2 linked regions of the Homo sapiens genome follow. The protein of the gene in region 2 interacts with the protein of the main gene of each other region in a pairwise test. Each region holds a gene or a part of one and is shown on either strand. Other genes may lie near its edges.

Evidence for each region. Proteins that work in one complex are often made in the same cells at the same time.
Region 1: the proteins of FAR1 (region 2) and DHRS4 come close enough for resonance energy transfer, tested with the Homo sapiens proteins (one large-scale study listed by BioGRID).

The regions. Positions count from the first base shown.
Region 1 is NC_000014.9:23,960,223-23,963,881, reverse strand, and holds part of DHRS4 (dehydrogenase/reductase SDR family member 4), read right to left. Parts: intron 1-3,659. UniProt on the Homo sapiens protein: NADPH-dependent oxidoreductase which catalyzes the reduction of a variety of compounds bearing carbonyl groups including ketosteroids, alpha-dicarbonyl compounds, aldehydes, aromatic ketones and quinones.
Region 2 is NC_000011.10:13,730,154-13,732,902, forward strand, and holds the end of FAR1 (fatty acyl-CoA reductase 1), read left to right. Parts: 3' UTR 1-2,193; downstream 2,194-2,749. UniProt on the Homo sapiens protein: Catalyzes the reduction of saturated and unsaturated C16 or C18 fatty acyl-CoA to fatty alcohols. It plays an essential role in the production of ether lipids/plasmalogens which synthesis requires fatty alcohols.

The sequences.
Region 1 (3,659 bases), on a different chromosome or scaffold from region 2:
TACAATGGCTTGTAAGTGTTTAAGCAAAAGGAAGAGTCACACATCTTTCACTTTAAATCAAAAGCTAGAAACAATTAAGCTTAGTGAGGAAGGCATGTTGAAAGCTGAGGCAGGCTGAAAGTTAGACCATGTGCACCAGTTAGCCAAATTGTGAATGCAAAGGAAAAATTCTTGAAGGAAATTAAAAGTGCTACTTCTCTGAACATATAAATGATAAGAAAGCAAAAGAGGTTTATTGTTAATATGGAGAGAAAGTTCTTATGTTCTGGACAGAAGATCAAACTAGCCACAACATTCCCTTAAGCCAAAGCCTAATCAGTAAAAGGCCCTAATTTTTAATTCTTTGAAGGCTGAGAGAGGTGAAGAAGCTCCGGAAAAGTTGGAAGCTAGCAGTGGTTGGTTCATGAGGTTTAAGAAGCCACCTCTGTAACATAAAAGTGCAAGATGAAGCAGCGAGTGCTGATGTAGAAGCTGCAGCCAGTTATCCAGAAGATCTAGCTAAGATCATTGATGAAGGTGGCTACAGCAAACAACAGATTTTCAATGTAGATGAAACAACCTTCTAGTGGAAGAAGATGCCATGTAGGGCTTTAATAGCTAGAGAGGAGAAGTCAATGCCTGGCTTCAAAACTTCAAAGGACAGGCTTATTCTCTTGTTAGGGGCTAATGCAGCCAGTGACTTTAAGTTGAAGCCAATGCTCATTTACCATTCTGAAAATTCTAGGGCCCTCAGATTTACGCTAAATCTACTCTGCCTGTGCTCTGCAAATGGAACAACAAAGCCTGAATAACAGCACATCTGTTTATAGCATGGTTTACTGAATATTTTAAGCTCACCGTTGATAGCTACTGCTCAGAAAAAGATTCCTTTCAAACTGTTACTGCTCATTGACAATGCACCTGGTCACTCAAAAGCTCTGATGGAGATGTACAAGGAGATTAATGTTGTTTTCATGCCTGCTAACACAACATCCATTCTGCAGCCCATGGATCGGGGGTAATTCTGACTTCCAAGACTTATTATTTAAGAAATACATTTTGTAAGGCTATAGCTGCCATGGATAGTGATTCCTCTGATGGATCTCGGCAAAGTTAACTGAAAACCTTCTGTAAAGGATGCACCATTTTAGATGCCATTAAGAATATTTGTGATTCATGGGAGGAGGTCAAAATATCTACATTAACAGGAGTCTGGAAGAAGTTGATTCCAACCCTCATGGATGACGTGGAAGGGTTCAAGACTGCATCAGAGGAAGGAACTGCAGATGTGGTGGAAATAGCAAGAGAACTAGAAGCGGAGCTGGAAGATGGGACTGAATTGCTACAATCTCACGATAAAATGTAGATGGCTGAGGAGCTGGTTCTTACGGATAAGCAAAGAAAGTGGTTTCTTGGGATGGAATCTATTTCTGGTGAAGATGCCATGAATATTGTTGAAATCACAACACGGGATTCAGAATATTATAGGTACTTAGTAGAGTAAGCAGTGGTAGAGTTTGATAGGATTGACTCCAATTTTGAAAGAAGTTCTACTGTGGGTAAATGCTATCAAACAGGATTGCATGCTACAGAGAAATCTCTTGTGAAAGGAAGAGTCAACTGATGTGGCAAACTTCACTGCTGTCTTATTTGAAAAAACTGCCACAGCCACCCCAGCCTTCAGCAACACCACCCTAAGTCAGCCACCATCAATGTTGAGGCAAGATCCTCCACCAGCAAAAAGATTACAAGTTGTAAAGGCTCAGATGATTGTCAGCATTTTTTTAGCAATAAAGTATTTTAAAATTAAGATACGTATATATATTTTAAAACATAATGCTATTGCTCAGTTAATAGACTTCCATTAGATGATCATTATAATGTAAACCTAACTTTTATATGCACTGGGAAACCAAAAAATTCATGTGACTCACTTTATTATAATATTCACTTTATTGTGTGGTGGCCTGGAACCAGACCCACAATATCTCTGAGGCGTGCCTGTACTTAGTTTAAAACTGACTTTCATATGGTCTCTATTCAGACTGTTCATGAATGATGCTCCTCTATTTTAAAGACTATCAGAATCTGGCTGTGTGTGGTGGCTCATGCCTGCAATCCCAATATTTTGGGGGGCTGAGGTGTGGGGATCAGTTGAGGCCAGGAATTTGAGACCAGCCTGAGCAACACAGTGAAACCGCATCTCAATACAAAAAATTAGCCAGGCATGATGGCACATGCCTGTAGTCCCAGGTACTTGGGAGGCTGAGGCACAAGAATCGCTTGAACCTGGGAGGCTGAGGTTGCAGTGAGCTGAGATCACACCACAGCCCTCTAGCCTCAATGACACAGCGAGGGAAAAAAAAAAAAAAAGGAAAAAAGACAGAGCAAGAGTCTGTCTAAAAAAAGAAAGAAAGAAGCCAAACTTAAATGGTTAGCAGCAAATCTCTGGGTAGTTTTGAAGAAAAGACGGTTTAAGAAAGAGAAGTTATTTTGATGATAGTTCCTAAGAAGGAAGGTTTTGTTGTCATTGTTGTTGTTGTTGTTTTTAATATAGAGAAAAGGTCTCGCTGTGTTGCCCAGCCTTCTCTCAAACTAGCTCAAACTAGAATCAAAAACTAGCTCACTGAAGAACATTTTGGCAGTTTGGTCTTTATGTGTATGAAACACTGGTAAATAAATCATAGTATTTTGGCAACCTGATACTTTAGTGTTGAGAAATTTTGATGACATCTGATATAGTTGGTAAGTTTGTCCCCTCTAAGTCCCATGTTGAAATGTGATCACCAGTGTTCCAGGTGGGGCCTGGTGTGAGGTGTTTGGGTCATGAGGGTGGATCCCTTATGAATGGCTTGGTGCCCTCCCTGTGGCAGTGAGTGAGTTCTCACTCTATTACTTCATGCCAGAACTAGTTGTTTAAAAGAGACTGGTATCTCTCTCTTGCTTCCTGTCTTGCCATGTGACACACTTGCTCCCTTTTTCCTTCTGCCATGATTGTAAGCTTCCTGAGGCCTCATCAGAAGCAGATACTGGCACCATGCTTCTTGTACAGTCTGCAGTATCGTAAGCCAAAACAAACTTCTTTTCTTTATAAATTGCCCAGCTCAGATATTCCTTTATAGCAATGCAAAACAGACTAATACAACATCAGTGTAAAACGCAGAACCATGGGAGATCATAAAAATTAGCATTTCCCAATCATGTGGGAATATTAACCTTAATAAACAAAGACAAATATTTTAATTAAAGCTTTGTAATTAAAGAGTGTGTGTGAAATATATTACGAATATAATGTAATTATACACTTTCACATAAAACCCAATATTCTACCACTTGAATTTAGACATCTGGATCTCAGATTTTCTTGACATTGCAGTTAAGAAGAAAATAATATAGGTTTTTATTTTATTTTTTTAAAGGATGTATGTTATAAAGTGGCAACTGGTCATTTCACCAGAATTAGTATTTTAAATAAGGAGCAGCATTTAATATTTCCCAACTCGTAAAAAATAATTACTTTTTGTCAGCTGAAAAGGGGACAGGTGGGTGTGTAAATTAAGTGTTGTAGTTGTTGGCATATTAGCTGCCTACGTCTCTGTTGGAAATCAACAAGGCAGAAGAGCATGCCAGGGAAAAAGCCTGGGGAGAGGAGCAGACTGTGGCTAGTGAAGAGCAGATAG
Region 2 (2,749 bases):
TCAGCAGTGTATCTGGAGTATGTTTAAAGAGAACAGTTCGCAATACAAAAAGTTACATGGAGCTTTACATCTTAACTTTCTTTGTCAATTTAAATGCAATGTATAAAAAGTTTATTTTGCTATTGTGAAAAACTAAATGTAAAGGAAATCACCTACTTTCATGCAGGTGTATAATCTTGAAAAGGAAAAATGCTTCCATGTTGAAGCCAGATTTTCTGTAGTAAAACTTTTAAATATTATTTTAAAAGAAATATGTATATAAATATCTCTATATTCTTTGGAATGATACTAAAGTCTCTGGTCTAGGACCATACCTTATATAAAGGTATAAGAGACCATGACAATGTCTGAAAATGGAATAGATAATGATGCCTTTTATTTAAAGTGGCCCACATAATATACATTGAGTACTCCATCTCTCCAAATGTATTTCCATAATGTGTTGAAAACATGCTAACATTTGTATGATTTTTATACTTCTGCCGAATAGACTTAGAATCAGATGAATTGTCTGTGTGTCTTGCAAAAGAGTTGGGGACAACTTGGGCAGGCCTATGAAGTGCATAGGGAGTGTATGTCTTCTGAATGGTTTTATTGTTCTTGTAATCTAGCTTAAAGAAATGTTAACTGGGAGGGTGCTGAGGCCACTCACTGCATTAATTTTGTGTGTTTAGAGTTCTGTTGTCAAAAGAAAACTAATGAATAAATTAGTTTGTCATTCTAGAATTTAAAGTTCTAAGATTAGTATAAAGAGTATATAGATTGTTAATCCCCACCAGCTAGACTTTGAACTTAAGTCAGACTTAAAGATTTGAGAAATTATTTGTGTCATTTACTAGACGTGATTTTTAGTTCTGTTTGATTATATTTCCTACACAAACTTCTTATTTAACAGGATAGCCTACTAAATTAAATGTTTCTTATTTCACTTAACTCATTTGATTAAACTGTATTCTAAAACATTTGGGGTTTTTCCCCCTATTCAGTTTTAATCTTGGAATATGCATTTGTAAATTGTGATGTCATTGAGACTATATTTATATTTGACTTGGCAACATTAACATGTCCTAAGACTTAGTGCAGAGAAGCTTGGCAGTACGTTCTTTGACTTAAGGATGGCATAAAATAATCATTTTTGAACCTGTGTAATAAAGCTTGAAAGCAGGGAAAAGAATTTCCTTTTCCCCCTTTTTTGTGTTGTCTATAGGAATTAACTTGGGATTGTTTTGTGGGTTTTTGTTTGTTTTAAATGTAAATTGAGAATCTTTTATAAGAAATAAAAGCATTATTGGGTGCCTTTGTTTGTAAACCAAAAAGTAATAAATGAATCCCTATATTTCCATTATAGTATTTATTGTATTTTTATGTTCTGAAAATTACCCATGGAACAATATGCTTAGGATTACAGGAAGCAGTCCTTACTTACACTTCTTGTCTGTTTTAGGTGTACTTGTTAATTCTTATGTCCTAATTTTATTTAATTCTGAGTTCCTTACACAGCATTTTAGGGAAAGAATACAGGCAGGATGACACTTTGTGTTAAAGTGTTATTTTTATGTATTACCTGGAATGAGGCAGGTTTTTTTCTGTTTTCTAAAAAGAGTAACCAAGATACCTCCAGGGTGTCATTGGGTTCCAGCTGCTCTCCTCCACATTGAATGATATCTTGTTAATTTATAGGCACATTTGTGGTAATTTATATGTCTATAGAGTAAGTATAAGAGATAATTCATTAGTAATAGGAATTAACTGACCCCTTTTGGATGGGGGAGAGCATCAGGCTGGGGTCAGGTAAGTGTAAATGGCCTTCTGAGCATGCTCTTCTAGGCTGACTCCCAGCCCTGACTTGAAACCATTAGCGCTAACTTGCTCTGTTTTGAGAAAAACTTTCCAAACTTTTGCATGAGAAACTAGAAAAAGGAATGTATGCCACGTAACTGGATTACAGAAATGAGTTAATTGTCTCTGTGATAAAAAAAAAAAATGAAATATTTTCTTATTGAATTAATATTTTTGTCTTGAAGCATTTTCTAGTGATAGAATGTATTTGTCTTTTTTCCTGGTGGTACCCTCTTAGCATATATCTTTGCTATCCTTAAGATCCTAAACAAATCATCTTTGTCAGTTAAGTATAGTTGCGCAAAAATTGTTAAATCCTTTGTCTTTATTAAAGAAAAATTTGAGTAACATTAAGTTTGATGTGCTCCTTTGCAAGTTGATGTCTCTAAAATTCATTTATTTAGAAAAACATGAAGTGGTAAGTATAAGTTTAATGTCTTTACCGTGGGCCTGAACTCAGAGAAATAAGGATATAATTGTTTTTTGGCCTGAGATCACAGATGATAGCTATGATACCTGTAATTTTATACAAGGGGGAAGGGAGACAATCAAGATTTTTCTGAATTCATTTGTTTAAAACAAAGTTAACATTCCTAGTTATTGTCTTCAAAATACTTTTCTCCTCTAGACATTTAATTTTCATTTTTAAAGTTCCATGAAGTTGAATTAGGTGTCTTCCAAAGATGCTTTGGAGGCAGAATTCCTTTATTTTCTGCTGTTGTACAGTAAATTCTTTCTCTCTCATATAAATCTAGAGAGCTTCCTTTCACTTGTTTTGAGCAAGGTGTAACTAGAAAGTGTTAGGTTGAGCCGTATAAAAATGCTAATATGTCTTTGACCTGTAAGAAATTTCATATGGCTCAGTCTAGTATTATAGCTGCCTTTTTTTCTTTTGTTTCTAACAAACACA